Linked DNA regions of Homo sapiens: region 2 is linked to region 1. The links come from fine-mapping of genetic effects on gene expression. A gene starts in region 1. The other region holds a variant in brackets. All regions are shown on one strand. Distances are between the middles of the regions.

Evidence for each region. PIP is the estimated chance that this variant, and not a neighbour inherited with it, causes the effect. A credible set is the group of variants that fine-mapping cannot tell apart.
Region 2: its variant is the best candidate, but not a certain one, in a credible set for the expression of FOXS1 in esophagus muscle (GTEx, PIP 0.83).

Annotation. Positions count from the first base shown.
Region 1 is chr20:31,837,327-31,852,813 of GRCh38, forward strand. FOXS1 (forkhead box S1) reads right to left here and starts at 8,278. Exons shown (of 1, transcript NM_004118.4): 1 at 6,977-8,278. The coding sequence starts at 8,216. The coding sequence ends at 7,224. It also overlaps a transcript of DUSP15 not described here. RefSeq lists enhancers at 1-563, 7,662-8,219.
Region 2 is chr20:31,750,741-31,766,227 of GRCh38, forward strand. It overlaps TPX2 (TPX2 microtubule nucleation factor), which reads left to right. Exons shown (of 18, transcript NM_012112.5): 3 at 6,667-6,842; 4 at 9,317-9,439. The coding sequence starts at 6,737. Among named protein-coding and RNA genes, the nearest start is that of TPX2, 19 kb to the left of the region's middle. The variant A/G (reference allele first, on the strand shown) is at 9,289.

The DNA of each region.
Region 1 (15,487 bases):
GCTAAGAAGGGTTAATTAACACTGTCAATGGGAGTGCTCCTCCCAGTTGGTCCCAGCCCAGAGAGCTTTCCTCCAAGACCATTTCCTGCCTCAAGGCCTTAGCCAGGCCCACAGTGACCACCCCCCACAGGTCTGGAAGCCACTAAGCCCACATCTGGTTTGGATTACATCAGGGCTGGTGACACTGCCTTTCCCTTTCTGGGTCCAGTGGCCTTGTATTCCACTGGCCACCTTGGACCCAATAAGACAGTGGTAGGTAAAGATTCAGCCAGTGATAGGGCTGCGCCGAGGGCATGGAGGAGCCAGGGCTGTCCTGAAGGATGTGCCCACCTGGACCATCTCCTACCTATGAAGCTGCCTACGCATCTGTTTCTTCCTTCATGTTAATGGGTAATATTTATTGGCCACCAGGCACTATACCAAGTGATTCCCATCAATTAACTTATTTTGTCCCCACCCTATGAGTAGGTATTTTCATTATCAACATTTCACAGATGAGGAAACTGAGGCACAAGGAGTGTATGGACAAGTCCATGGGCTCCCAGCTGATGAATAGGGGAATCAGGATGTGAGGCAGGCCATCTGACTTCCCACACAGCAACCACTTCACAACCATTTGTTGAGCCCAGCTCTGGGCCTGGCCCCCAGCGAGAGCCTGGGGATGAATGAGTCATGGCCCTTGCCCTTGGGGAGCTCACAGCCTCTGGAACCCCAGTGGGAGGATGGGGATCAGGGTGAAGCTGGAAGGAATCTCATGAAACCATGAGAACAGGAAGGAGACACTAACCCCTATTCTCTTCTCTTCAGTGGGAGTCACATCCAAGCTGAGGGCACACAAGGAGCAGGGCTTTTCCAGACAGAGAGTGAGGAGGGTGTTCCAGGCAGAGGGGACTGCTTGCTGTCCAGAGACTTGCAGCTGAGTATAAGCTCATCTTGGAGCAGGCCAGTAGGGCTTTTGCATGAGACGAAGCAGGAAATAGGTCTGGAGAAGTTAGCAGGAGCCCGAATGGCAGGCTGACATGGGACAATGGGGAGCTGTGGAAGGGAGGTCAGAGATCCATGCTTACAAAGGATCCCTGCAGCCAGGGAGGTCAGTGAATGGGAGAGAGAGGCTGGAGGCAGGGACACCCGGTGGAGGCTGAGCCATGTCTGCTTGAGAGGCTGTTAGCTGTGGGGAGGAGATGGGGGAGATGCCTCTAGACAGATAGGCTGATGACAGAGAGATTGGGTTCCAGGTCAGACAGAACAGGGTTCGTACCTACTTATTTGCCCTCCCTGAGCCTCAGTTTCCTGTCTGTAAAATGGGGTAAGAATCGTACCTGCTTCCCAGGATAATGAGAAAGTTACATGGGATTTGTAGGTGGAGCCTGGTACAGGCTACTGAGCTTATGTTTTTTTCACAACTATTTCTCCGGCCCTGGCTATGTTCCAGACACTGCCCTAGGTGCTGGAGACAAGCAATGAATAGACAAAAATTCCTGGCCTGGTGAAGCTTCATGCCAGTGGGGGAGACACACTGAATGGCAATAATGAATTTAGAATGTGTTAGTGGTGGGGGAAATGGGGAATGTGGTGGCCAGGCAGGGCTTTTCTGAGGATATTTGAACAGAAACTGGAGGATATGAGGGAGTGAAGCCTGTGGACATTCACGGAAGATAAGGCAGAGCCAGTGTACAGGCTGCTTGGAGTGAGTGAGGGGGAAGGAAGGAGGAGCTGGGGCCAGACCACAGTGGCCCTTGCCTATTAACGAAACAGGGAGCCTTGTTGGGGAGGTCTTTGAGAATTTTTTTTTTTTTTTGAGACATAGTCTTGCTCCATCGCCCAGGCTGGAGTGCAGTGGCGTAATCTCAGCTCACTGCAACTCTGCCTCCTGGGTTCAAGCGGTTCTCCTGCTTCAGCCTCCCGAGTAGCTGGGATTACAGGCGCCCGTCACCATGCCCAGCTAATTTTTTGTGTTTTTAGTAGAGACGGGGTTTCACTATGTTGGCCAGGCTGGTCTCGAACTCCTGACCTCAGGTAATCCACCAGCCTTGGCCTCCCAAAGTGCTGGGATTATAGGCGTGAGCCACCGTGCCCAGCCTTGAGATTTAATTCATGGCAAATGAATGAATGGTGACCATGACTCCATCCATCCACTCCTAAACCTTCATGGAGGGACTACTATGTGCTAGTCATCGAGTTAGGGAAGATGACAAAACGCATAAGGCAGACCCAACCCTTGGCCCCTGAAGTTTACATTCTAAGGCAGAGACACAATAAAACATGAGTACATGTGCACATGCGTGATTCTACATTGCAGCAGATGCTATGTCAGCAACATAAATGGGATGCAGAGGGAGAATAATCTGGGGGCATCCAATTAGATAAGGAAGTGCAGGAAGACTTCTCAGAGAAGGTGATGTGATGTAGGTGGTGGATGTAGAGAGGCAGCCAGTGGGGGCGAAGGGAACAGCTGCTGCAAAGGCCTAGAGATGGAAAAGAAACTCACGGGGAGGCAAGTGTCCTAAGGGAGTGGGAGGGTCAGCCCTCTCTTGTTTGTATGCTCAGGGCAACCTCAAAACTGGCCCTGAGGGCTGTGGTCAAGAGGAGGCAGCCCTGGCCTTTCCCGGGACACCAGGCTGGCTTCTGGCTGACAGTGGCCTGTTTTTAGCCATGGAACCGTTTCCTTCTGCCCCACCAGCTGCCTCCCTGAGTCACCACCTAGTACCAGAAGTGTGGGAACAAGAGATTAGGCACCTCTGGACCTGTGAAGATGTGGGTTTTGCCCTGTGTGAAGGGAGAGATGGAGAGGACTACGCTGAGGGCATGAGGTCCTCCAACGGAGTTGTTTTATTAATTCTAATTTCATTCCTGTTGACTGAATTGTACAGGTAGTGTGCAGGACAAGGCTTTCCACATACCAGTCCTGGGGACTGGAATCATTGCTCCCATTTTACAGATGAGGAAACTGAGACTCAGAGAGGTGAATCCACTTGCTCAAGGTCACACAGCAAGGAAGTGAAGATGCCAGGAACTGAGTCAAAAGCCTTGTCTGTGTAACAGTCCTTCCTCCCCCTAAATCCTGTCCTCCTGCCTCCACAGCAGCTAGACACTCTTCTGGGGCATAAATCAGGTTAAGGGAGACATGTCCAGTACCCAAATACCTATTTATTGTACTTAACAAACACTTATTTTATTTTATTTTTTTTTTTGAGACAGAGTCTCACTCTGTCACTCAGGCTGGAGTGCAGTGGCATGATCTCAACTCACAGCAACCTCTGCCTCCCAGGTTCAAGCGATCCTCCTGCCTCAGCCTCTCGAGTAGCTGAGACTACAGGCATGTGCCACCACACCCGGCTAATTTTTGTATTTTTTGTAGAGACAGGGTTTTACCCTATTGGCCAGGCTTGTGTTAAACTCATGACCTCAAGTGATCCTCCTGCCTTGGCCTCCCAAAGTGCTGGGATTACAGGTGTGAGCCGCCGCACCCGGCCAACAAATACTGATATTGTAGCTGCCATGTGCCAGACCCTGTTCTAAGCACTTTGCCAGTATTAACTCATGTAATCCTCACAATAACATCATGGGGGTAGGTACTGTTAGGGTCCACATTTTACAGATGGGGGGAACCCAGAAAGGGGAAGCAACTTGCCCAAGGTCACACAGTTAGGACGTGGCGCCTGGTCCATGGGTGGATGGAAGTCTGGGTGTGGAAGGGATGTTTTGGCTGAGGCCTGGATTCCTGGATTGCATACTCTCCCAGCAGGCGGCATGCCAGGCTGGCCGATACAACCTCCCGGCTTTTTCTCATCACTGTGGCAGCCTTGCAGGGCCCTGCCCTCCAAGGGAGAGGGTCTCCTTCCCCTCGGCCAAGGCACTGTTTGGGGTGTGGGCAGGAGTGCCTAACTCTGGGCCATGGAATGCCATAAACCAGGGAAGGAAGGGGGTGGGCAGGGAGCAGGCTGGAGATAAAGCATCGGGGAGGAGGGGCTGGCTAAGGCCAGCCCTGTGGGTGGGTGAGGGTGGCCTTCCCAGGGGCCAGGAGTCCTTTCCTCTCTTGGGAGAACAAAGGCCGAGGCCCAGCAGGTGAAGCTTCCTAATGGTCTTTCAGAGCTACCACACTTTTGTGGGAAGGGGCCGGCCACCTGGAAAGGCAGTGGGCTCCCAGTTCCTGGAACCCCATGTGATGTCGACCATTTTAATGTAGAGAGGATTCAGAAATCGGGCAGGAGATGCCCTTCCGGCTCTGATATTCCAGGAATCTGAGTTGCTATGATTAAAAACTCTGGAAGTTTCTGAAATATTCATTTCAGATTCTGATTCTGCCATTTTAGGATTTGATTCGTCTAACTCTGTAAGGGTCTCAATAACCTTTTTTGCTCTCACCTGCTAAAGAGGAGGAATGGGGACTGGGATTCCCTCCTAGAGATGGACACGCTCCCTATGAGGAGGTCCTTGGTCCAACGAGATGGCCCCATCCCTCCCCTCCAGAGCTACATTAAGGCATCAGAGGGGGTGCCATGGATGGGCTGAGAAGCGGCTCTGCTCCTGCCTTGCCATGTGACCCTGGGCATGTTACCTCTCTTCTCTGGCCTTGGTCTCTCCATCTGTGCCAAGGGGCTCTATCTGGGTCGACAGAGGCATTCACTGTCCCCGCAACCCCTGTCCAGATGAGGGTGGTCAGGTGGGAGCCGGAGGTGAATGTTGGTCATGGAAAGAATGTGAAGGCAGGAGGCCCCGTGGGTGGGGTCCCTGGGCTGGGCAGCTAGCCAAGGGTGCATGAGATCATGGTGTCTCCTTGCCCAGCACCTCCAGAGAAGGGACCTCCTCCAGGTCAGATCCGTTCCTGGGACTCAGACCGTGAGTCAGGCTGCCCTTCCCCACAACCACCGGGCAAAGGGAGTGAAACGCAGAGAGGTGGGCACTGGTCCAGGCTCATACAGTGAGTCCAAGGCATGTGCTGAGTCCAGGGTCCTGCTTGGGGGGTTGGGGCTGAGGGGGCCTGTCTTCTCTTCATGACTATGTCGGAGGCCAGAGGGAGATGTGCAGAGGGGGCTCTGAGCCTGCATGTGGGCAACCCTTTCGCACATTCCCCCAGGGCAAGGGATGAGCAGGAGACTCAGCCTCCTTCTCCACAAGTCCCCACCCTAGTGCAGAGCTAAACTTCCTTGATTCAGGGGGATGCTGGGGAGTACAGCGGCAGAGGCCTGGGCTCCCCCAGCCCAGCCGGCTTCCCATCCTCCTAGTAGCTCAGAACCCAGGCTGGGAAGGGACTGGGGTCACCAGGGCTCCACAGGAATGTGCAACGGGAACAGCGCCCAGCAGAGGCCTCCTTCCCTGACCCAACTGAGAAAGAACTCTCACCCCTTTGAATCTGTCTGTCTGCCTCTGCAGGGTCTGTCTTTCTGCATCTCTCTCTTTCTCTGTCATATACACACACGCAGCCTGAGACACACTGATCCACACAGGCACACGCCATGGTACAGACTCACACAAGAGCCTCCTTCCCCCTCCTCACCATGCCCTGCACACAGAGGGCCTTTCCTCTTCCCTCTGCCCCATGAAGCTGCCCATAGGAGGCTGCACAGACCCTTGCTCCTCCTCCCCATTGTTTGATGGGTTCCAGGCTGGGGTTCAGCAGGCATGGTGGGGAGGGGCCCCACAGCTGGCCAGGCGTTTTCCCAGCCCCTCTCACCCTGCAGGTCCTCCTCCACCCCAGCTCTGAGACTGTGGGAACCAGACAGTTCGGGCTGTCCAGCCGGGCTCGCTTCCTCCCAGGCCCCAGGGGACCTGTCGGGGGAGGAGGGAGCAGCAAAGGCTGGAGTCCTCGGGGCTGCCTGGGCAAGGGAGGGCCTCTGGAGGGGAGAGGGCTGCCTGCCCAAGAAGGGGTCTCCAGCCCCCTGAGTGTAACCTCGTGGGACATAAGACACTCTAGACCACATGCCAAAAACCAGAATGGGGGTGCCCCAGCATCCCTCCCTCCTCTCCCTATGCCCATGATCCAGATAGGAGGACTGAGGCTCTGGGGAGGAAGCCATTCGCCTCTGCTCCTCCAGTGCTGGGGTCTGTGAGGACAGCGATGTTTCAGATTCCTTCTCTGTTCCTCTAACGAGGACCAAGAATATCCCCATTTCTCCTGCTTCCTCGCGAAGGGATAGTCAGAGAAGGTCAAAGGTCAGGGCTCAGTCACTTCTGAATGGTACCTAGGACAGTCACAGCCCATGCTGCTGGCCCCAAGAAATGCCGTCTTAAAGAGTCACCAGAGGACCTCATGGAGCTGGGGGCTCAGGGAAGCTCCCACATTAATGTGGGAAGTCCAAACAGGGGGTAGGTGCTGCCTTTTGAACCCTAGGTGCCCTGTCTGCACAATGGGTAAAGGGTGCCTTTCTAGCCCTGGCCTTCCAGGATTGCAGCAAAGCCCTCCCACCTCTGGGGGCCACCACCAGCTCTGCCCTGACCCTCTTCTCCACCCTTATGTCCTCACTCAAGCTGCAGGTCAGAGGCTGGAGGGTAGAGCCACACAGATGTGGTTTTGATTTACCCTCTGCCACCCATTTGCCCTCTGGAGTTGGAGCTGGCGAGCCTGTTTCCACCACTGTAAACGGGGCCAACTTTCCAAATCACACAGGTGAGATGATACATACAAGCCCGGGACAGGATCAGTGTCACAAATTGTCAGGGTTATGATGACTGCACCTACGGGGGCTAAGTCCCAGCATCTGAGACTGGAGAATCAGTCCCTCAGGCCAGCCCAGTCTTGCCCCTGCCCAGTCTCTCCCTTGCCTGTATCCTCCTCTCCCTGCTCCCCATTCCCTACCTCCCCTTCCTCTCCCTTTCTAGGAAACTCCCTGAGAAAGTCCCCAGCAGGAGAAAACCTCATGTGAGATATTCCCACCAAGGGTCTCTGCCCCCGCTGCACAACCCCACAGCCACAGCCACCCCCACATACAAGCAGGCACCCTGGCCCTCAGCCCCCAGCCATCAGGCAAGCTGACCCTCATCATCACATGGCTTTATTGGCCCTGAGAGCCACAGAGTAAATCCCAAGAGGCCCTGCTTCCCCTCACCCCCAAGTTTGTCCGGAGGCCCCAGGGGCCTGGCTGAGCACCGCTTCAATCCTGGCTTTCTGTGTGGTTGTCCTTGGCTCACCAGGGCTGGGTCCTTCGAGAGTTCTTCAGGTCCTAGAGCCAGGCTCAGCCCGGAGGGTGAGGGACCTGCAGGGACTGCCCGAGGTGAGGCTGCCTTTACTCAAAGAAGAACATTCCTGGCGTCCGGTATAGGCAGGGGGTCAGCCCCAATGGGTAGCCGGAGCCTCCCTGGACAGGGAAGCCACCTGCAACCCAGGGTTCCTTGTGGTCAGTTGGCAGGGGCAGTGGGGCCCGGAGTGAGCCTGGAGGGGTGGGTGGTGCAGGGGAGGGGGCTGCTGAGGCCAAGAGGTGCTCAAGGCCTGGGTCAGCCCCCATGCAAAAATTCAGTGCCTGCAGCCGACACTGGTAGCTGCTCCCGATGCCTGATTCCGGGGACAAGACGGGCGTAGGGGCCTTATTAAAACTCTCAGCCTCTGAGAAGCCGGCAGGAAAGCCAAACGCTGGGCATGAGGAAGATGAGGTGGCCACGGGGAGCTCCCCTGGGCATGCAGGCTTGGGCGTGGAAATCTCTTTGGGCTCCATGGGTGGCCGAGGCCTGCCATCAGTGGTTGCTGGGCACATACTGGCTGGCATGGCCCCCACCAGACCCCCAAAGCTTAGGCCCTTGGGATCTGGCAGCTCTGGTGGGAATGAGCACTGCCTGCCGGTCGTGGCGTTGGGGACTCCTGGGTCCTGGCTGGTCGCCCTGAGGGGTCCACGGCGTGCCTTGGCGGGGCCCCGGGTGCCCTCAGCACCTGTCTGCCGGGTGAAGCGGCGGCGGCGGCGTAGGAAGCTGCCGTGCTCAAACATGTCGTGGCAGTCAGGGTCCAGCGTCCAGTAGCTGCCCTTGCCTGGCTTGCGGTCATCGCGGGGCACCTTGACAAAGCACTCGTTGAGTGACAGGTTGTGGCGGATGCTGTTCTGCCAGCCGGGCCGGTTGTGGCGGTAGAAGGCGAATCGGCCCATGATGTAGCGGTAGATGCCACTGAGGGTGGCCCGCTGCCCCGGTGAGCTCTGGATGGCCATAGCAATAAGGGCGATGTAGCTGTAGGGAGGCTTGGTTGGCTCAGTTGTGGGGGCGCCAGGCCCGGGCAGAGGCTGCTGCTGCATGCTGGCCGGGCTGCCAGGCTGCTGGGACCTGCTGGGTCAGGCTCAGCTTCCAGGGCTGGCGTCCGGAATAGCCTGCCCAGGCTGGTTAAAAGGTCCACTGGCCCAGCCTCCCAGCCTGGAAAGGCAAAAAGGGGTGGGTCTGCTGAGCCATCCTCCCCTCCTCCCTCGCCCCACTCCCACAAGGCCCAAAAGAGGCGGGCAGGAGAGGCCAGTAGTGGGAAGCCGAGCAGCTGCCAGGGATGAGGAGTTGGGAAGGAAGGGACTGAGACCCTCAGCCCACGTGTGCTGGGTGGTGGTGGCTGGGGAGGGACAGGATGTGAAACTGAGCGGGACAGAGACAAAAACAAAATGAGACAGAGGCAGAAACATATGAAACAGAGACAGGGAAAAAAGAGATAGAGACAGAGAGAGGTAGAGACATCACAAGAGGGAGAAAGAGGGAGAGACAAAGATAAGACAGAGGCAGACACAACGGACAGAGACACCCAGAGCCTCTCAGACACTCACAGAGAGACACACAGACATACACGTACAGACACACAGAGACACACAGACATACACGTACAGACACACAGAGACACACAGACACAGACACACACACAGACACACACACACAGACATAAGCACACACACACATATACACAGAGACAGACACACACAGACACATAGGCATACACACAGACACACACACAAGCACATACACAGACACACAGAGACATACACACACAGAAACACAGAGACACAGACACAGACACACACACACACACACACACACACACACGTAGTATACGGAGAAAGTGAGAATCACTGAGCAGGCAGAAACAAGGAAATCCACAAAGCCAGAGAGAAAGGAGATACTGAGAGACACAGGTGCAAACACAAGGAGTGAAAGGAATGAATAGAGAGAGAGAGAGAGAGAGAGAGAGAGAGAGAGGAGAGAGAGGCAGGGCCTGAGCCCAGTCCCCCTAGAGTGAGAGAAGCCCCAGGGGCTTCTCTAATCCCTACCTCTACTCCTGCTTTTCCCTCTTCTCCCAGGCCTGTGGTCTACTGCCTTCTCCTGCGGTGCAGAGGCCTTGGGGCCACACCACTCCTACCCCATCCTCCTAGCTCTGGGGTGTCTGCAGGGAGGGGCACCTAGGATGGTAAGGAGAGCCCATGAAATTCAGTTCTGCTGCATCCCTGTCGCCCCCTAGTGACTGGTGTGGGAAGGACAGCTATCTGGGGAGAGACATTCTCCCTCCCAAGAGGCACCTCAAGACCTTGGCTGAGCCTCAGTTTCCCCATCTCTAACATGGAGCTGGTGACTCCTCAGCTGTCCAGGCCATGGTGGGGAGGCAACAGGTTCCCCTTACACAGAATGCAGCACCCTCATCAAGAGCCTAGTATGGAGTAGGGATATGAACATGGCTGCGGATTGTCACTCTGAACTGAGGCTACCCCAGCTGCAGCCTGGGGTCGGGAGGTCCAGAGAGTCAGGCCCAGAACAGTCAGGCCTTCTGGAGGAGGGGACGGCATCCTCTCTGCTCTCCCACTCCCAAGTCACTGCTCACCCACTCTGTACCAGGCCAGCTCACCTCCCCAACCCTACACTTACTTCTTCAACCAACCCTGCTCTGGAGGGCTTCATTGCTTCTTTTGAATAGATGAGGGCTCTGAGGCTCAGAGAAGGTAAGTAAATTCCCTGATGTCCCACATCTAGTGAGTGACAAAGCTGGATATGAGCCTAGGATTCTGTAATTCCTAAATACTGCCTCTTCAGTGAGGGGCAGGGGTAGCGGAGAGTCGCTGGGTCCCCACTAGAAAACAGAATGTGAACTCCAAGAGAGTAAAGAGCATGCTGTTTTGCTGTACCCCCAGAGTCACACACTGGACACTGGAACAGAGGCCTGGAACAGAGTAGGTGTTCAAGAAATGTCTGCTAAATGACTAAACAAACAGCAATTGATTGATTTCTGTCCTTTATCGAATCACAGTTTTCCCCCCATGAAGGTGGCTTATTAATGTATCATTAAAAGAGACTTACAATATTGGCATCTGTAAGAGGATTCCTATAAATAAAATCAGAACTCAGAAAAGAATAAAAGGCCTGATATGTGGGGTGGAAAACAGCTACTTTATTCCCATGGCAGGGTAACCAACTTTCTGGTTGTAGTCCCCCTTTCCAGTTCTCAGATTGCCTACAACGTACAGCTTGCAAAGACCAGTGGGGCTTGGAGAAGGGCTGGTCTTCCACGTTGACCTCTGCCTTAGGGCTGCATTTGGAGGTCCGCCTCAGTTTCTTCAAAGACAGCATCCTACAGGTGCTGGTACTTCAGTGGTTAGCATCCAAAGCCCAGGGTTCGGCCAAGTTCCCTGTTTTGGGATCCTTCCCAGCCCCCAGAATAAAGAAGAGAGACTAGCTGCAGGGAGGAGGAAGGTTCTGTAAATTCTAGGCCCCTGAGAGGCTAGGCAGTTTTGTTATGGCTTGATCCCACACTAAACAACCCTGATGATCTAATTATTGGTAAAAACTTTAAGCAAACGTTTTAATGGACTCAACAGCAGGTTAAGGCTGGCTCTGAGGAAAGCGCTATTGACAAATTGGGCTGTCAGCAAGAGATGAAGTCTTGCTTCTGCTCCAGTTGCTGCCTTTCTGGGGCCTCAAGATCAAGTTCAGTTTCCTGCCGAAGCCCCATGCCCAGCTGGGGGGCGGTGTGGCCTACTCTCGAGTTCCGGGGCCCCGTGACAGAGGAGTGGAAGGCCGCGATCCACCTCTGCCGTCCGGCAGACCTGGGTGATGTGCCGGGGGAGGCCCCAAGTCTATGGGCTTAGTGTGGGCAGGGTTGGGTGGGAGTAGGGAGCCCCCCTGTTGGGGGCTGCCTTCAGCGGGTACAAGAAGAGGAAGCGGCTCGCTTAGGATGGAGGCAGCTGCATTGAAGGTGAGTGATGCCATCGGGGTTGCCAGGGGTTGAGGACCCATCTGGGCGCTCGGTTGAGGCACTTAGAGTGCAGGACGAGCTCCCAGGCCGAAGCTGCACCTGCACCTGCGGGGGCGGGTGGGGCGATGAGCAGACCCTCTCCATTTCCCGCCTCGGATGTTCCCATGGGAAGTCACAGCCCTAGTTACAGCCCCATCCCTACCCCCATTTTCCAGGTAGGGTCCTACAGACCCGAGGGTGCTAGAAGTGTCAGAGGCAGAGCTGGGACTGGAGGGAGTGTGGGAAGGGCTGTCTGGAGGGGACTGGAGGGCGTGCTTCTTGGCTGGAGTGGAAGGAGTGACTCACGTCCGCCATGATGAGCTGCTCCTTGGGGTGCTGTGTGGGGCCCGGGTCCTCCTCACCGAAGCACAGACAGATCTGGTACTTTGGGTCCGGTGACCATCCTGCAGGTGGGCACACAATTATACGACACTGAGACTATAGGGACTGGGCAAGAACTAGGCAACCCACTGGTGCCCATCTTGTGCTCATTTCCCATGCCCAAGTCCTGTAAGCCCACATCCCATTGTGTGCCTGTACCCTAGGCCCACTTCCACGTTCCTATGCCTGTCCCATGTCCCACATCTGTGCCCACTTCCAGGTCTTATGTCTCTTCCTTGGCCCCTATGCCCACCCCATGCCTTTATGCCCAACCCATGCCCACTGCCACTCACCTATACCTATCTCGTGCTTGGTGCACCTCACATCCACCTTATGCCCTAAGCCAACACATGTACCGAAGCCCTATTCTTATGCTGCACACCCAACGCCTCAAGCCTTCTCCATGCCAGCACCCCATATACGCCTGTATCCGTATATGTGCCCCCAGCCCTCCTGGTGCCTGTATTCTTTCCCATCCCTGGTGCTTTTGTGCCATATTCTTTGTGTCAATGTCCACTTCATGCCCAGCACCCTTAGGCCCATCCCCCTGGGCCTGCATTTAATGTGCCCACTCTCCTCTGTTCATGTTCCTTTGCCCACCGCGTCCTTATGCCCCCGTTCCCACGCCACTCTGTTCCACTCCTCCAGCCGTCCTACCGCCTGGAGGAAGCCGCGTGTGTTCAGCAGGTGGCAGGTGCGCCTGCGCTCCACCTTGTTGGGCTGCGCCAGTACAGGCCCTGGCACAGGCGCTTGGTGAACACGCCCTCCGGAGCCACCCAGAGCTGCACACCGCGCTCCAGGTGAGGCGGCAGGCCCTGCAACACGTGGGCGCTGGGCAATGGGTCGGGGAAGCGAACCTGCTGCAACGTGAGGTGGCGGCCCCAGCAGGCGCTCGGCGGCCGCCCGCGGACTCAGACGACAGCGCTGGGCTGTGCGCCCGGTGGCTTCGCGCACCAGCGCTGCGGAGAGAAGAGCCACACGTGCAGCCAGCAGGCTGTGGGGCGAGAGAGGGTGCACGGGCTGGACGTGGGCGGCGCTAGCTCCCCTCGCCTTCTTACCCTCCCCTTCAAACTCTGCCGGACCCAGAGGTCGTCCCAGCCTCTACCTCGGAAATTTTGGGTGCTCTCTCCCTATCAGTGATGATAAGAATTCTAGTAATAATAGTAGTAAACAATAGCTTCCAGTATAAACGAACTGATAGTCGAGCTCTGCGGTTAAAAGCTGGGGCCATCTGTACAGTGAGGGCATGACCCTCCCAGCAAATCTTCTGGGATTCTAGGAGCTTCCTCCCAGCAAAGATTTTGATGCAGGTAGAAATAACCATAACAGCGACAATAACAACAACCTAGCAGCGTCTCATGAGAAACCAGCAATCCTGCTCAGTGGTTAGGGTTGTGGGCTCTGCAGCCAGGCCCTCGGATTCTAGTCTATCACTGCCACTTAGGAGCTTTCCCAGGGTTACCAGCTGTGTGACCTCAGGCAAGGTTCTTAACCTCTGTGTCCTGGTTTGGGCATATGTAAAATGGGAATAATAGCAGCATCTGGGGGCTGTGGGGAGCTTGGAAGGGTGCCTGGCATAAACTAAGCCCTCAGGAAATGTTGACTGTTGTGGCTATTATTGGGAGCCTGGGCTGGGTGCTTTGGGTGGGAGAGAGAGGTGGGCTGGCCCCACCCCGCGGCCGTCCCCAGTTCAGCACACTGGTCGGAGGGGAGGGGATTTCGATTCCTTACCAGGTTGCTGAAGTCATCGGAGGGCATTGGGCACCAGAGGTTTTTGAGGTCCTATGTCTGGCACCCTGGTGAAGGAGAGGAAGCAGTCAGGCACCATCTCACCCTGACCCCAGACCCATAGATAAGGAGGAGGCCAGGGAGGAGGCAGGGCTGGGTGAGGAGACCCAGTCCTTACTGTGGTCAACCAAAGGGCCTGGAGGAGGATGGGTGGTAGTAAGGAACCCTGCTGGGCCAGCCTGTGGGGCCACTCCTTGTCCTCATCCTCTGTGGCAAATCCGGAGCCATCCTGAGCATTGGGAGAAGAGGCTGTGAGGGTGGGAGAGGAGGCCTGTGACTCCTCAGGAATTCCCAGACTGTTCCCACCAGTGCAGAGAGGTCTGGGCGGACTGAAGGCCAGCTGGGGTTGACAGTGTTTCTGAGTAAAAGGGCTGGCTGTCCAATGTATTAGAAGTCAATATTATGGCACTGGGCTTTTGAGAAAAGAACTTTGAAGTTTCAGAGCTCAAACTCCCCCGCCCCCATGGAGGTAAAGAGAAAGTTGATGAAGATGTTGTAGGTATTAGGGCCAGAGATGGGTCACTGTGATAGGGAGAGAAGTGCTGGGGGTAAATGCGGAGGTGAGGGAGCTGGAGATGAAAGGTATGCGGGACAGAGCCAGATGCTGATGCGGGGGTGGGGGTGATGAGCACAGAGCAATGAGCTGTCGACGATGGCGGAAAGGTGATGGGGTGGAGATAATAGGGGTGATACAGACAGAATGAGGGAGACAGAGCTGATGGGAACAGTGAGGGAGCCGGAGGTGATGGAGCTGGACCCGATGGGGTGCATGGGGGTGGAGTGATGGACCCAAGGAGGACAAAGGAATGAATGTGGAGAAGATGGGGTGGCTGCAGACAGGGCAATGAAACTGAAGATGGTGGAGGTGAAGGGAATGGCCTGGTGGTGCTGCAGATGGAGGGAGGGCTGCAGGAGAGGTAGAAAAAGGTGGAGCGGGTGGGAGCATGGGGACAGGGCTGGAGCTGGTGCTCTGGAGGGATGAGGTAAATGATGGTGCTGGAGGTCATAGCCAGAGAGGGTGGGGCCAGTGGGTGACTTGCTGAGAGGTGACTGAGCTGGCAAGGCTGCAGGGGCTGGAAGAACACACTCAGCAGGTCTGACCTGCAGGCAGGCTCAGCCACTTCCCAGGAGCTTCCTTCGGACTAAAGGGCATGCCTACCTCTTCAGGGGGCGCCCAGGCCCTGGTAACTGCATCAAGCAAGAGACAGCCTGCTATTCCCTGGGCCCCAGGAGGAACCCCCTCAATTTAGACGATCCCAGATGAGTACCCCAGCTCATTGTATGGCCTCAGGCAAGGTCCACCTGTTTCTTGGCCTCAGTTTCCTCCTTTTCTTTCTTTCTTTTTTTTTTTTTTTTGAGATGGAGTTTTGCTCTTGTTGCCCAGGCTGGAGTGCAATGGTGCGATCTCGGCTCACTGCAACCTCCACCTCCTGGGTTCAAGTGATTCTCCCGCCTCAGCCTCTTGAGTAGCAGGGATTACAGGCACCCGCCACCACTCCTGGCTAATTTTTTGTATTTTTAGTAGAGATGGAGTTTCACTATGTTGGCCAAGCTGGCCTCAAACTCTTGATCTCAGGTGATCCACCTGTCTCCGACTCCCAAACTGCTGGGATTACAGTTGTGAGCCACTGCATCCAGCCAGTTTCCTCCTTTTCTAGTGGGGAGATAAACTGTGTGGTCTAGGCGTCCTAAATTGACCAGCACATGAGTTTAAGCTCAATGAGTCCACCACCCACTTTATAGATGAGCAAAGAGATCCTTGTTGCCAGACAGCCATCGTTGGCCATTACCTCCAGGGGCAGGATGGTACCTGGGCCACAGCGGCAGACACAATGTGGTCTTGTAGAAGTTGGAGATGTTGGCCGGGCATGGTGGCTCATGCCTGTAATCCCAGCACTTTGGGAGGCCAAGGTGGGTGCATCACCTGAGGTCAGGAGTTTGAGACCCCTGGCCAACATGGTGAAACCCTGTCTCTACTAAAAATATAAAATAATTAGCTGGGCTTGGTGGCAGGCGCCTGTAATCCCAGCTACTTGGGAGGCTGAGGCAGGAGAATCGCTTGAACCTGGGTGGCGGAGGTTGCAGTGAGCCGAGATCTCGCCATTGCACTCCAGCCTGGGTGACAAGAGCGAAACTCCGTCTCAA
Region 2 (15,487 bases), 87 kb before region 1:
CAATTTATAGGCCACGTAAATGGGAAGGATTATTTCCTTAAATCAAGAGATTAGACAATCATTGCTTGTCATGAATATTTAATAAAAATTTGAGAAAGCTCAGTTTCTTTTGGGCTGCAAACATAGATCTAGGGAAATAAATACTGCTTAACTATTTTGTTGTTGTTGTTGTTGTTGTCTTTTAAGAGACAGAGTCTCACTCTGTTGCCCACGTTAGAGTGCAGTGGTGCAATCGTGGGTCACTGTGGCCTCAAACTCCTGGACTCAAATGATCCTCCCACCTCAGCCTCCTGATTAGCTGGGACTACAGGCACACACCACCATGCCCAGCTACTTAGGAGGGGTTGAGGAGGGAGGATCCTTTGGGCCCAGGAGTTCGAGTCTAGCCTGAGCAACAGGCTAGATTCTTTAAAAAACAGAGATGAAAAAGAAAGAAAAAAAGGATGTGAAGGGTTAAATTTGAACACTTTCCAGGTAGTTTTCAGCATCATGCTTTGGTGGAATCATGGTTTTGAGGCTAAGTGGGGTTGCTGCATGTTACATTCCTGCCTCTTCCTTCCCCCAGCTTTAGTCGTCTTCATTACATTCATGCCTGGGAAGCCTTCCCAGTGACCTGAGTTAGGCATTAAGATCATGGGAATCCAAGATTTTCCCATGTCTTCTAGCATATTTGTTCACAAGAAAAGGAAAATTTCCTCCTTGCAGCAAGGGGTTTTTAACCACTGTCAGTACCATGGAATCTTTCACTAAAAATCCTTTGAATAGAAATGTGGTCAAGGAGAGGAAAGGTATCAGCAGTGATAATACCTTACAATAGTGTATTTCATAGCACTTGAAGTAGCTTCTTATTTGATTATGGTAAGAAGGTAGGCAGAGAATTAGTGACTTGCCTATTGTCATATACATGTGGTAAATGCCAGAGAGGGCATTCTGGACTTCTGTTAGTTGGAATTGCTTTTGACTACAGGTGACAGAAAATGTGGCTATAATGGTTTATACAATAATTATTATTATTTTCTGAGATGAAGTCTCACTCTTGTCACCCAGGCTGGAGTGCAATGGCGCAATCTCAGCTCACTGCAACCTTCGCCTCCTGGGTTCAAGTGATTCTCCTGCCTCAGCCTCCCGAGTAGCTGGGATTACAGGCACCTGCCACCACACCTGGCTAATTTTTATATTTTTATTAGAGACAGGGTTTCACCATGTTGGTGAGGCTGGTCTCGAACTCCTGACCTCAGGTGATCCGCCTGCCTTGGCCTTCCAAAGTGTTGGGATTACAGGTGTGAGCTACCGTGCCTGGCCTATTTTTTTTTAGTATAAGAAGTCTTTTTAGCAGGTCATGGAAAATTGTAAAAAACACCAGAAGTCTAGAGGTATATAGTAGCTGATATTTGATCTTTAATAGTCATTAGCTCATTGATGTTAAGCCCTATGTTTATTGTTCTCTTGGCCATCTACTCATGTATACCAGATGACTGCCATAGCTCCAGCTTGCCTTCAAGGCAAGAAGAAGGATAAAGGGAAAGGGCAGGAATAAGGGCTATAGCTGTTTTCAGGAAAGAAAATTTTTTCCTAGGAATCCCTCAGCAGATTCTTACTTAGTTCTCATTGGCCAGAACTGTCCCATGGCTACCCCAAGCTTGGAAAGTGGCTATCAGGAGGTAACTTCCATTTTAATGTACTTGCTACTGTTTTGGTCATGGTCAATGAAAAATATTTAATCGTACCTTGACTTCAGCCATGTTAATTTCTAATTCTCTATACTTAGAGTTCATACTGTATAATTTAAACAAACTGTCTTATTTATTGTGTATGATAGGACCTTAGCGTCTATGTAGATGTTAAGTTCCTTTGTGTTCAGGACTACATCTACTTTTTTTTCTTTTTTTTTGAGACGGAGTCTCGCACTGTTGCCCAGGCTGGATGCGGTGGCGTGATCTCGGCTCACTGCAAGCTCTGCCTCCCGGGTTCACACCATTCTCCTGCCTTAGCCTCCTGAGTAGCTAGGACTATAGGTGACCGCCACCATGCCTGGCTAATTCTTTTTGTATTTTTAGTAGAGACGGGGTTTCACCATGTTAGCCAGGATGGTCTCAATCTCCTCACCCTGTGATCCACCTGTCTCGGCCTCCCAAAGTGCTGAGGTTACAGGTGCGAGCCACTGAGCCTGGCCGCTTAGATCTACTTTTTGTGTGAAGATATAGAGTGTCATCCTTGAATGTTACTGAGAAACATTCAAGGGCACACAGCTTATGGCCCCTAGCAAGTACACACTATTGTGAACCACTGACAAAAAGCTTATTGAGTTAAGCTTAATAATGAAAGTAGAAATGGAGGAGAGAGGAAAATTTAGACTGGGGATACCAAAGAACCCCTATTCCAGACAGAAGACTATGGAGAATGGATTTACTTGGAAATAAATACAGTATTCTTTTCTATGCAAATAGCTTAACTTCATGAACACCCTTCTTTAATTCACAAGGTAAGAGGGCAGAAGGATGTAGAAAGAACATTGTGCTGAAGTCACGAGCCTCAGGTCCAGATCTGGCTCTGTTTTTACGTAACTGTGTGATACTGGGCAAGTCATTTAATCTTTCTGATCTTCAGCTTCTAGGTTGGGAATAATTGCTGCTTTACAGGATTGTTTTGCATATCAGAAAGAATACATATTTAGTATATCATGGCACCTGGCATGTAATGAACACCTCTGGTAACTGTTTTTACCATGATCCTTAGGATTTTTGTTGTGTGATCTTGGAGAACCCCTTTTTGCTTTAAGTTAATATCTTATAGACTGCAAAGGTTAGGTGTTAATCAAAGTTTCCTCCCAATTCTAAAATATCATGTTTCTACACTAAGTACCTCAATTAGAGCATTGTTATAAAGATACTTGTGGAATTCTGGCTGCAGTGAGCATAGGAGAGACCATGGGAAGATGATGTTCTCTGGGGTCTAGATTGATGTCACTGTATAAATGAAATATTTGTTATAACAGATGTTTCTGGCCGGGTGCGGTTGCTCATGCCTGTAATCCCAGCACTTTGGGTGGCCGAGGCAGGCAGATCACCTGAGGTCAGGAGTTCAAGACCAGCCTGGCCAACATGGTGAAACCCCATCTCTACTAAAAATAGAAAAATTAGCCAGGCGTGGTGGCGCACGCTTGTAACCCCAGCTACTTGGGAGGCTGAGGGAAGAGAATCGCTTGAACCCAGGAGGTGGAGGTTGCAGTGAACCAAGATCATGCCACTGCACTCCAGCCTGGGCGACAGAGCAAGACACCATCTCAAACAAAACAAAACAAAAACAACAACAATAACAGATGTTTCTGAGACACTATAAGGACCAGAAGTACATTATTTTTATTTATTTTATTTTTTGAGACAGAGTCTCGCTCTGTCTCCCAGGCTGGAGTGCAGTGGTGCGGTCTTGGCTCACTGCAGCCTCCCGGGTTGAAGTGATTCTCACCGAGTAGCTGGAACTACAGGTGCAGCCACCACCCCAGGCTAATTTTTGTATTTTCAGTAGAGATGGAGTTTCACCATGTTGGCCAGGCTGTTCTCGAATTCCTGACCTCAAGTGATCCTCCCGCCGCGTCCTCCCAAAGTGCTGGGATTACAGGCATGAGCCACCACTCTCAGCCCCTAGTCCATTTTGAATTGCCCTAGTCCACTGAGAGAAGCTGTGAAATGCTGGCCAAACCACTGAACGGCTATGTAGGTTGGGAGTAACTAATCTCATGATTCATCTCAGTGGATAGCTTATGTGGTATAGTTTAGAGAAAATGAGTGCTGCAGTGCCCAGAGTTGGGGAGAGTTTGGGGAACTGGCACACTCCTGGTAATGTAAGTGGGTGTTTTTTTCTTCTGAGGGACATTTTCACAGTATGTGTCAAGAGCTTTTGACCCAGCAGTTCCACCTCTTAAGATTTATCTTAAGGGAAGAATTATGGATGTGTACAGAAATTTAGCTACAAGGATGATGCTTTAGCAGTATCTTTAAAGTGAAAATATTGGAAAAAGGCTGAAAATCAAGGATAAGTAATTATGGAACAGATACAGCCATTAATTGATATGTCTATATTTATTGACATACAAGAATATTCATAATATGTGAAGCAGATTCAAACTGTCAATGATTCATTTAAAAAAATAATAGTTTGTATATATATGAGGGAGAAGACATCTGGAATAGTGTAGCATTATAGGTTTATTTATTTATTTATTTTTGAGCCGGAGTCTCGCTCTTGTCACCCAGGCTGGAGTAGAGTGGCGTGATCTTGGCTCACTGCAACCTCCGCTGCCTGCGTTCAAGGGATTCTTATGCCTCAGCCTCCTGAGTAGCTGGGATTACAGGTGCCCACCACTGCGCCTGGCTAATTTTTTGTATTTTTAGTAGAGACAGGGTTTCACCATTTTAGCCATGATGGTTTTGATCTCCTGACCTCGTGATCCACCCGCCTTGGCCTCCCAAAGTGCTGGGATTACAGGCGTGAGCCACCGTGCCCGGCCGCTTTTTTGTATTTTTAGTAGAGATGGGGTTTCACCATGTTGGCCAGGCTGGTCTCAAACTCCTGACCTCAGGTGATCCATCCGCCCTGGCCTCTCAAAGTGCTGGGATTACAGGCATGAGCCACTGCGCCACACTAGAAAGGTATTAATTTAAATAAACATTTATTCAAGTGATTACTGGCATCTACCTCCCTTCTAAGATACAGATACTTTTAAGTACATGTCGTTCCCTGGATAAAAACAAATGGCTGGCCGGGCGCGGTGGCTCACACTTGGGAGGCCGAGGTGGGTGGATCACTTGAGGTCAGGAGTTTGAGACCAGCCTGGCCAACATGGTGAAATCCCGTCTCTACTGAAAACAAAAAATTAGCAAGGTGTGGCTGTGGGCGCCTGTAATTCCAGCTACTAGAGACTGAGGCAGGAGAATTGCTTGAACCCGGAAGGCAGAGGTTGTGGTGAGCTGGGATCATGCCACTGCACTCCAGCCTGGGGGACAGAGTGAGACTCCGTCTCAAAAAAAAAAAAAAGACAAATGGCTCATTGGGTTTCATTGGCAAATTATTGGCCACTGAGTGTGGCCTTTAGGCTATTTATCAGATTACTTTCAGCTATTTTATTAACTAGATTAGGCTTGAGTAGGAGCTGACTTTAAACCTTCACAGGTTTCCACAAGATAGAGTGCAAAACTTCGTACGCAGGAGTAGGGAGGGGCCTATTTAACTTGTTCCCTTATCCTTGCTTCTGTTCCTATGCTGCATGTTGTGACTCTTACGTGTATTTCAAAGTTGTCGTCTTTATACTCAGAAATAGTATTTTTTGAGAATATTTCTAAGAAAAGACAACTTATATTTGACAAAACTGTGTTGAACTCTTACTATGTATAATGCACTGTGTTAAGCACCTTGATGGTTGGATGGATGGATGGATGGATGAGGTATACACAAGTGAGTAAAATCTATCTTTGTTTTTAGGAACTTCGAGTCTACTGGGAGAGACATTTACATAGTTAATATAAAATTGGATGATAAGTGTTACAGTGGAGATATAAACAAAGCACAATTGGCTTTGGAGAGGCAACAATTTTGTATGATAGGTGGAAATTGGGAAAGAGTTCATAGAGATTTGACCTGGACTTTGAATGATGGATAAGATTTTGGTTGGTAGGCATAAAAATTAGTGGTGTATTTTAGAAATTGGGTTATTCAGGGCAGAGAGAGAATAAATTGGGCTAGAGGAGGCTAGAAATGAGAAAATGGTAAATTGAGGGAAAATAATGACATGGTGAATGTAAAACACCTAGCACAGTGTAGATACTTATCAAACTTTGCCTCTTTTAAAAAACATTTAGAAAATTTATTTATTTATTTTATTTTTATTTATTATTATTTTTTTTGAGACAGAGTTTTGCTCTTCTTGCCCAGGCTGGAATGCAATGGCGCGATCTCGACTCACTGCAACTTTCACCTCCCAGGTTCAAGCGATTCTCCTGCCTCACCCTCCCGAGTAGCTAGAATTACAGGCGCCTGCCACCATGCCCAGCTAATTTTTTGTATTTTTTAAGTACAGAAGAGGTTTTGCCATGTTGGTCGGGCTGATCTTGAACTCCTGACCTCAGGTGATCCACCCGCCTCAGCCTCTCGAAGTGCTGGGATTACAGGCGTGAGCCACTGCTCCTGGCCTAAAATTTATTTTTAATTTCAATTTTTTCTTTTTGGTTTTTCTTTATATTTGCTGATTACTTAAAGATAATTTTTATTTTTTTAGAGATAGGGTCAACTACTTACAGATAATTTTTATCTTTTTAGAGACAGGGTCAACTGTTATACTTAGAGATAATTTTAATTTATTTAGAGACAGGGTCTGTCTATGTTTTGTAGGCTGGACTTGGACTCCTGGTCTCATGTGGTCCTCCCTCCTCCCAAAATGCTGGGATTACAGACGTGAGCCACTGTGTCTGGCCCACTTCTTTCTAATTCCAAACATATCTACCTCAAGGAGTATCTTTAAGTTACCTGAAAAACTAATGTTTAGGTTGATTGGACAAAGTAAGGCTATTTTCAGTAAATTCTAGGTGGTTTGCAAAATTACAAACGTGGTAGTAAAACCAAAGTAATGATGGGAATTTACTTAGATTTATGTGCAACCATTTCTTTCCTCAGAAGGTGACCTGCTGAGAAAAGTGGTACAAATACTGGGAAAAACCTGCTCTTCTGCGTTAAGTGGGAGACAATGTCACAAGTTAAAAGCTCTTATTCCTATGATGCCCCCTCGGATTTCATCAATTTTTCATCCTTGGATGATGAAGGAGATACTCAAAACATAGATTCATGGTTTGGTAAGTGCCTGCTTTCTCTGGCTATTTTAAGGATTAGTGGCTTGCTTTGTGCTGAAGACCTTTCAATAATAGAAGGGGTTGCAAGAAAAGAACTAAAATATCAACTTCTTTCTGCACCAAGACATTCTGTCATCCATGATATTATGGGAATAATTGAAATGCCCAGTATTTGGGGAATGGATTGTAAGTACAAAGCATATGTTGTTTTGTAGTTCAGAATGGCAGATTTAAGCTTTAGGGACCTATGGGAAAGTTCAGATGAACCAGTGTTCAACAAAACTCCATGCTCAAATATGTCTGTAGTGATGGCAGCCACATAAAAACTTTGTCTACTATCATTAGGGATAGATTATATCACAGCTAGGATATTGACATTCATACAATCTACCAGTTTTACTCAGATTTCTCCAGTTTTACTTGTATGTGTATTAAGTTCTCTGTGGTTTTATCACCTGTGTTGGTTTATGTGTCTACCATCACAGTCAAGATCTTTTATAATTACCCTCACCTCCCTCCTGCCACCCCTCCCTCAATTCATTTTTTTTTTTTTTTTTTTTGAGGCTGTAGTCTCGCTCTGTTGCCCAGGCTGGAGTGCAGTGGTACAATCTCAGCTCACTGTAACCTCCGCCACTCTTGTTCAAGCGGTTCTGCCTCAGCCGCCCAAGTAGCTGGGATTACAGGCGCCCACCAGCATGCCTAACTAATTTTTGTATTTTTAGTAGAGACAGTGTTTTGCCATGTTGGCCAGGCTAGTCTTGAACCCCTGACCTCAGGTGATCCACCCACCTCAGCCTCCCAAAGTGCTGGGATTACAGGCGTGAGCCACTGCGCCTGGCCCTCAATTCATTTTTAAATGGAAGGATTATGCTACTAAGAACCCATTCCCAGAAACAGTATTGCTTGGCCAATGGTAAGTAAGAATGTGGTTACATTTTTACATTACTTTGAAATAATATCTGAGACTAGTTGTTGAGGCCCCTTTGATTCTTTCTCTCATGTCTCCATCCTCCTTATCGGGAGAAATCACTATGAATATGTGGTGGGGAACAGAAGTGAGTCCATTGCAGCTGTACTTATCCGTATAGTGCACTGTCCAAATGTGTTGACAGGTGCCATTTTTTGGAAAAGGACTTTAATGGCATCTAGTGGGGATCCTGAGAGGAGTCGTCTGTTGGAAGTGGTGTGGGAGGAAGGGTAAATAAATACAAGGGCCAGCTGTCCTGCGGGGATCTTCCCCATGCCCTTGCTTCACTGGAACTGTAAGGAAATGGCTGGGCTGTCTGAGGATTTCTTTTTCTAAGCTTTTCTTTAAAATAAAAAAGAAAAGAAAAGATTAGCCTAAGAATACTGTTAAATACAATTTGGAAGAAAAAAAATGACCCCACTATTTTTCCAAAACTACCTTAGTTTTAAAACATTTTTATTTTTTTTTCTTTTTGTTTTTGCCAGAGTTCTTTTGGCTAACAAAACTACCTCAGTTTTAATATATTACTTTCCAATTTCTTTCCCAAATAAATAGTCACATCTTTCTACACAGTTGCAATCAGAATGTACATGCACAGGGTAGTTATTGCTGTGTCTCACTGCATTCCTGAAACTATCAGTAGGCTGTTGGTAGAACAGACCCTTCACTGCTTTGTACTGACTTCTGGGCACAGTAGAATCTAAGATAAAATTTCTTGAGAGAACCTAGCTCTGCTCTACCCTCACACACCCCTTATTCCTCCCACCACCCCACTGAGGAGGAAACTCTGTAAGACTATACAGTATCTCTTGTAAGCCCTACAGTTTTTGATGGTTACAGTTTTCTTTCGTTTTTTTTTTTTTTTTTTTTTTGAGATGGAGTCTTGCTCTGTCGCCAGGCTGTAGTGCAGTGGTGCGGTCTCAGCTTACTGCAAATTCCACCTTCCAGGTTCAAGCGATTCCCCTGCCTCAGCTTCTCAAGTAGCTGGGATTAAAGGCATGTGCCACCACGCCTGGCTAATTTTTTGTATTTTAGTAGAGACGGGGTTTCACCATGTTGGCCAAGACAGTCTCGATCTCCTGACCTCATGACCCACCCGCCTCGGCCTCCCAAAGTGCTGGGATTACAGGTGTGAGCCATCGCTCCCGGCTGGTTACAGTTTTCTTTAAGAGGAACATGATATATTTAGGGAGTAGATAAAGCCAGTTCATATTTGTATGACCCTAAATGTGTACCAAACAAAGATAAGGAGTTATTCACAATGCAGAATCTGTACTTTTCCTTTTTTATAATACATTGTTCAATGTTGCCAGTTTTTAGTGATTGTTCTTATAGTCTATCTCGGATGTGTAATGTGTACTTTTTCTTTTGATTGCTAGAACTTTGCTTGTACTTGCCACATGAGTTGGAAGTGTACTGGTAGGGAGCTTTAGTTTGCATTTTAAATGCGTGATAGTGATTTGTTTTGCTTCCTTGCTGATC[A/G]GACAATGATGATCTTCCCTTTTCACAGAGGAGAAGGCCAATTTGGAGAATAAGTTACTGGGGAAGAATGGAACTGGAGGGCTTTTTCAGGGCAAAACTCCTTTGAGAAAGGCTAATCTTCAGCAAGCTATTGTCACACCTTTGAAACCAGGTAAGAAAACATCTTAGAAAAAAGCTCCTTGATAGAATGGTGGGACAGTGTTTTAGAAGCCTGAGGTTCTGGGAAAATTACCTAAATGCTCTATCTCTTTGTTTATTATTGGTGAAATGGGCTAATTCATTTCATGATAAATGTAAAACTAATGATGTGCTACACTTAAAAAAAAATCTCTTGGAGCTTAAGCTAACATAGAATTTTTTTTTTTTTTTCTTTAAGATGGGGTCTGGTTCTGTCACCCAGGCTGGTGGAGTACAGTGGCACAGTCATAGCTCACTGCAGCCTCAAACTCCTGAGCTCTTAGTAACTGGGACTACAGGTGCTCAACACCATGCCTGACTGATTTTTAAAAAATTTTAGTAGAGGAGTCTTTGCTAGCCAAGCTGGTCTTGACCTCCGGGCTTCAAGTGATCTTCCTGCCTCAGGGGCTTCCCAAAGTGCTGGGATTATAGGTGTGAGCTACTGTTCCCGGGGGCTAACATAGAATTTTATTGCCAGATACGTAACTGTTATCTTTTTGTGACAAGATTTAATGTAACCTAACCTGGGTCTGGGTGGGAAATAAAACAGCAAGAAAGAAGACTGTACTGCTTGCCATTGTACAAGAATTCTTTGAGTTATGTATCTGATTTTAAAAGATGATGGATCGCTTCTCGGCCTTTTGGCTAAGATCAAGTGTAAAAGATGATTGACATTTAAACTGGTGGGTACTGGATCTGCAGAATATTGTCTGTTTGGTTAGAACATAAGAAGCATTCTTTAAGAGGTCATAAAATCCTTCTTGAAATTGATTCTTTTGAAAAAAACAGCTGTATTTAGATTTAACTCACACATCATATGATTCACTTAAGATAAACATTTCAGTGTTTTTAAGTATATTCACAGAGTTGTGCAACCATCATCCTATCAGTTTAGAACATTTGAAAAGTATTATGTGGGTAAATCTGAAACTGGTCTCCATCACACCATATGACTACTCTCACCTCCCTCCTGTCACCCCTCCTTCAATTAATTTTTTTTTTTTTTTTTTTTTGAGACTGGCGTCTCACCCTGTTGTCCAGGCAGGAGTGCAGTGGTATAGTCTCGGCTCACTGTAACCTCCACCACCTGGGTTCAAGTGATTCTCCTGCCTCAGCTGCCCAAGTAGCTGGGATTACAGGCGCCCACCAGCATGCCCGGCTAATTTTTGTATTTTTAGTAGAGACAGGGTTTCACCATATTGGCCAGGCTGGTCTCAAACTCCTGACCTTGTGATCCGCCCACCTCGGCCTCCCAAAGTGCTGGGATTACAGGCGTGAGCCACTGCACCCGGTCAATATTTATCTTTCTATGCCTGACTTACTTCACTTAACATAATGTCCTTCAGGTTCATCCATGTTGCCATGAATGACAGAATTTCATTCTTTTTTATGGCTAAATAGTATTCCATTGTATATATATATGCCACATTTTATCTGTTCATCTGTTGATGGATACTTCAGTTGATTCCATATCTTGACTATTGTGAATAGTGCTGTAATAAACATAGGAGTGCACATAGATATCTCTTCGATGTACTGATTTCCTTCTTTTTGGATATATACCCAGTAGGGGGATTGCTGGATCATATGGTAATTATATTTTTAATTTTTTGAGGAGCCTCCATACTGTTTTCCATAATAGCTGTACTAATTGACTTTACTACTAACAATATATAAGAGTTCTCCTTTCTCTGCATCCTCAGGGATGCAGAGAAATTTTTAATATTTTTCATAGTGTCCATTCTAACTGGGATGAAAGGATATCTCATTGTGATTTTTAATTTGCATTTCCCTGATGATTAGTGATGTTGAGCATTTTTTCACATACCTGTTTGCCATTTGTATGTGTTCTTTTGAGAGATGTCTGTTCAGCTCATTTGTCCGGCTGTTGAGTTATTTGAGTTCCTTGTGTATTCTGGATATTAGTCCCTTCTTGAATGAATAGTTAGCACGTATTTTCTCCCATTCTTTAGTTGTCTCTTCACTCTGTTGATTGTTTCCTCTGCTGTGCAGAAAGTTTTAAATTTAATATAATCCCATTTGTCTACTTTTGCTTTTGTTGCCTATACTTTTGAGGTCATGTTCATAGGATCTTTGCCCAGAACCGTGTCCTAAAGTATTTCACCTATGTTTTTATTTTATTACTTTATTTATTTATTTTTGAGACAGAGTCTCACTCTGTTGCCCAGGCTGGAGTGCAGTAGTACGATCTCGGCTCACTGCAACCTCCGCCTCCCGGGTTCAAGTGATCCTCCTGCCCCAACCTCCCAAGTAGTTGTGACTACAGGCGCGCACCACCACACCCAGCTAATTTTTGTATTTTTAGTAGAGATGGGGTTTCGTGATGTCGGTCAGGCTGGTCTTGAACTCCTGACTTCAAGTGATCCTCCCACCTCGGCCTCCCAAAGTGCTGGGATTAGAGTCATGAACCACCGCCCTCGGCCTCCCCTATGTTTTTAGTTGTTTCATAGTTTAAGGTCTTACATATTAGTCTTTAATCCATTTTGAGTTGATTTTTGTATATGGTAAGAAATAGATGTCTAGTTTCATTTTTCTGCATTTAAATATCTAGTTTGATCAGCACCATTTTTTGATTTTTCAAATTTAAATTTTATTTTAGAGATGAGGTCTTACTCTATTGCCTAGGCTTGTCTCAGAATTCCTGGGCTTAAACAATCCTACCACTTCAGCCTCCCAAAGCTAGCACCATTTATTGAAAAGACTGTCCCTCCACCAAGGAATGTTCTTGGTGCTGTTGTCAAAAATCAGTTGGCTATAAATACGTGGATTTTTTCCTGGGTTCTCTATCCTATTCCATTTGTCTGTGTGTCTGTTTTTATGCCAGTACCATGCTGTTATGGTTACTATAGCTTTGTAATGTATTTTGAAGGCTGGTAATTTGATGCCTTCAGCTTTGTTCTCTTTGCATAGGATTGGTTTGGCTATATGGGGTCTTTTGTGGTTCCATGTGAATTTTAGGTTTTTTTTCTTGAGACAGAGTCTCACTCTTGTTGCCCAGGCTGGAGTGCAGTGGTGCGATCTTGGCTTACTGCAACCTCCGCCCCCCGGGTTCAAGTGATTCTCCTGCCTCAGCCTCTGGAGTAGCTGGGATTACAGGCATCTGCCACCACCCCTAGATAATTTTTGTATTTTTAATAGAGATGGAGTTTCACCATTTTGGCCAGGCTGGTCTCGAACTCCTGACCTCAGGTGATCTACCTGCCTCGGCCTCTGAAAGTGCTGGGATTACAGGCGTGAGCTACTGCGCCTGTCCTGCTTATACATTATTTATGGCTGTTGTATTCTTACTAATTTTTCTTTCCATTTGTTCCATCAATTAGAGAGAGAGGTAGTGAAATCTCAGACTGTAATTATGGATTTGTCTCTTTATCTTTATAATTTTTGCTTCATATAGTTTGAAGCTACTATTAGATGCATAAATGTTTAGGATTGTTATGTCACGTTGATGAATTGGCCACTTTAATTTAATTTAAATTTAATTTAATTTAAATTTAATTTTTTTTTTTTTTTTGGCTGGACGTGATACCTCATGCCTGTAATCCCAGCACTTTGGGAGGCTGAGGTGGGCGGATCACAAGGTCAGGAGTTCGAGACCAGCCTGGCCAATATGGTGAAACCCTGTCTCTACTGAAAAATACAAAAATTAGCCGGGTGTGGTGGTGCGCACCTGTAGTCCCAGCTACTCGGGAGGCTGAGGTAGGAGAATCGCTGAAACCTGGGAGGCGGAGGCTGCAGTGAGCCAAGATCATGCCACTGTACTCCAGCCTGGGCGATAGAGCAAGACTCCATCTCAAAAACAAAAAATTATATACATATATATACACACACACATACACACATATATATACACACAAGCATATATATATGTACATACATCTAATATACATGTATGTGTGTATATATGTACATATACATGTATGTGTACATACATGTACACATACATGTATATGTATATATTTTTGAGACAGGGTCTCACTCTGTCACCCAGGCTGGACTGCAGTGGAGCAATCACGCCTCACTGCAGCCTCTACCTCCTGGGCACAGGTGATCCTCTTACCTCAGCCTCTTGAGTAGCTGGGACCACAGATGCCACTACCATGCCTAGCTAGTTTTTGTATTTTTTGTAGAGACAGAATTTTGCCATGTTGCCTAGGCTGGTTTTGAACTCCTGGGCTCAAGTGCTCCACCCACCTCAGCCTTCCAAAGTTCTGGGATTACAGGTTGAGCCACTGTGCCTGGCCCCACTTTAACAGTTTGAAATGATCTTCTTTATCCCCATTGAAATTCTGTGCTCTGAAACCTACTTTGCCTGATATTAATATAGCCACTCTAGTTTTCTTTTGATTGGTTTTAGCATGGTATGTCTATATTTAAAGTGCATTTTTTTGTAGACAGCATATAATTGGGTCTTGCTTTATTATTTAATATTATTGTTGCTGCATTTTAATTGGAATAAATGCATCTATTTTAGCCTTGACATGCTATGCTATTATTTTGTGTGTGCGTGTGAGTCTCTCTGCCCCAAAAATATTTCTTTAGGAGATGAACCAAATGATTGTTCTCTGAAATGAATAATGCCTAAACTATGTTTTCATGGCCTATCTTTTCTTCCCTGTCATCTTGTTGCAGTTTAATTCCTTTATCAGGAGTCAGTTCATATGCTATGTGATTAAGTGCTGTTTCTTCCATGAAGCCTTTACTTGTTTCTTATTCTGTTTTGTTTTTTTGTTTTTGTTTTTTTTTTTGCAGACAGGGTCTCAGTGTGTCACCCCATCTATAGAGCAGTGGCATGATCACAGCTCCCTGCAGCCTTGACCTCCTGGGCTCAAGTGATCCTCTTGCCTCAGCCTCCTGAGTAACTGGGACTACAGGCACATTCCACCATGTCTGGCTAACTTTCTCAGTGTTCCCATAACACTTTTTTTCTATTTCGTTAAAAATGTTTATCAAGGCTGGGCTTGTAGTTCATGCCTGTAATCCCAGTACTTTGGGAGGCCAAAATGAGAGGATTGATTGAGGCCAGGAGTTTGAGACCAGCCTGGGCAATATACTGAGACCCCCATCTCTATTTATATAATATTGAAAAGCAAAAAAAAAAAAAAAAAACGTTTATCAAAATAAAACATGGCCATGGTAACATGGCTAACAATACTTAGAGTTTATGTTAAAATAACCCCTTTCTCTTCCCATCCCTACCCCCTGTCCTTTTTCTCAAACTCATATTGGTTTTGTTGTTGTTGTTGTTGTTTGTTTTTATATTTTGTTTTACAGGTGGGATCTCACTGTGTTGCCCAAGCTGGTCTCAAAATCCTGGGCTCAAGTGATCTTCCTGCCTCCGTCTTCCCAGTAGCTGTTTTAACTCACTATTTTAACTTGTGCTGTGGTTACATTCATAATGCCTGATAGTATGATTATATCAGCAGTATTTACAATGTTATGATTATATAAATATTGTTCAATGCCAGATCAATAACTGTGATGCAGTTGCATCCCTTCTTGGTACTCTTTGGCTATCTTTGGTTGTATTGTCACAACCCCTGAGCCACATAAAGATGATTCTGACATCAGGAGATCAGTGGATTTGCTTTTCTTTAAACTTTATCAATTTCTTAAATTTCTGCCACACTTTATCTTGCTTCATATTGGACAATGATCCTTGGAAGTTATTACTACTTTTTTGGGAGAGCATTATTATTTTTACTATCTTTGCTGCCTTGTTTCCTGGACCTTATAACTTTCTTCTGGATATACTCCTTCATTATGTGGGAGTGCATCCTCAGGAAACTTTCTTAAATTAGTGCAGGAGAGAAAAACTTTGAGTTCTCACATATTTGAAAATGGCATTGTTTCACTTTTATATACAATTGAAAGTTTATCTTAATACAGCATTATAGATTGCAAATTATTTTTTATCACTACTCTAAAGACATTGTTCCTTTATCTTCTATTTTTATGTATTGCTGATGAAAAATTCAGTGCTTATCTAATTTTCCTTACTTTG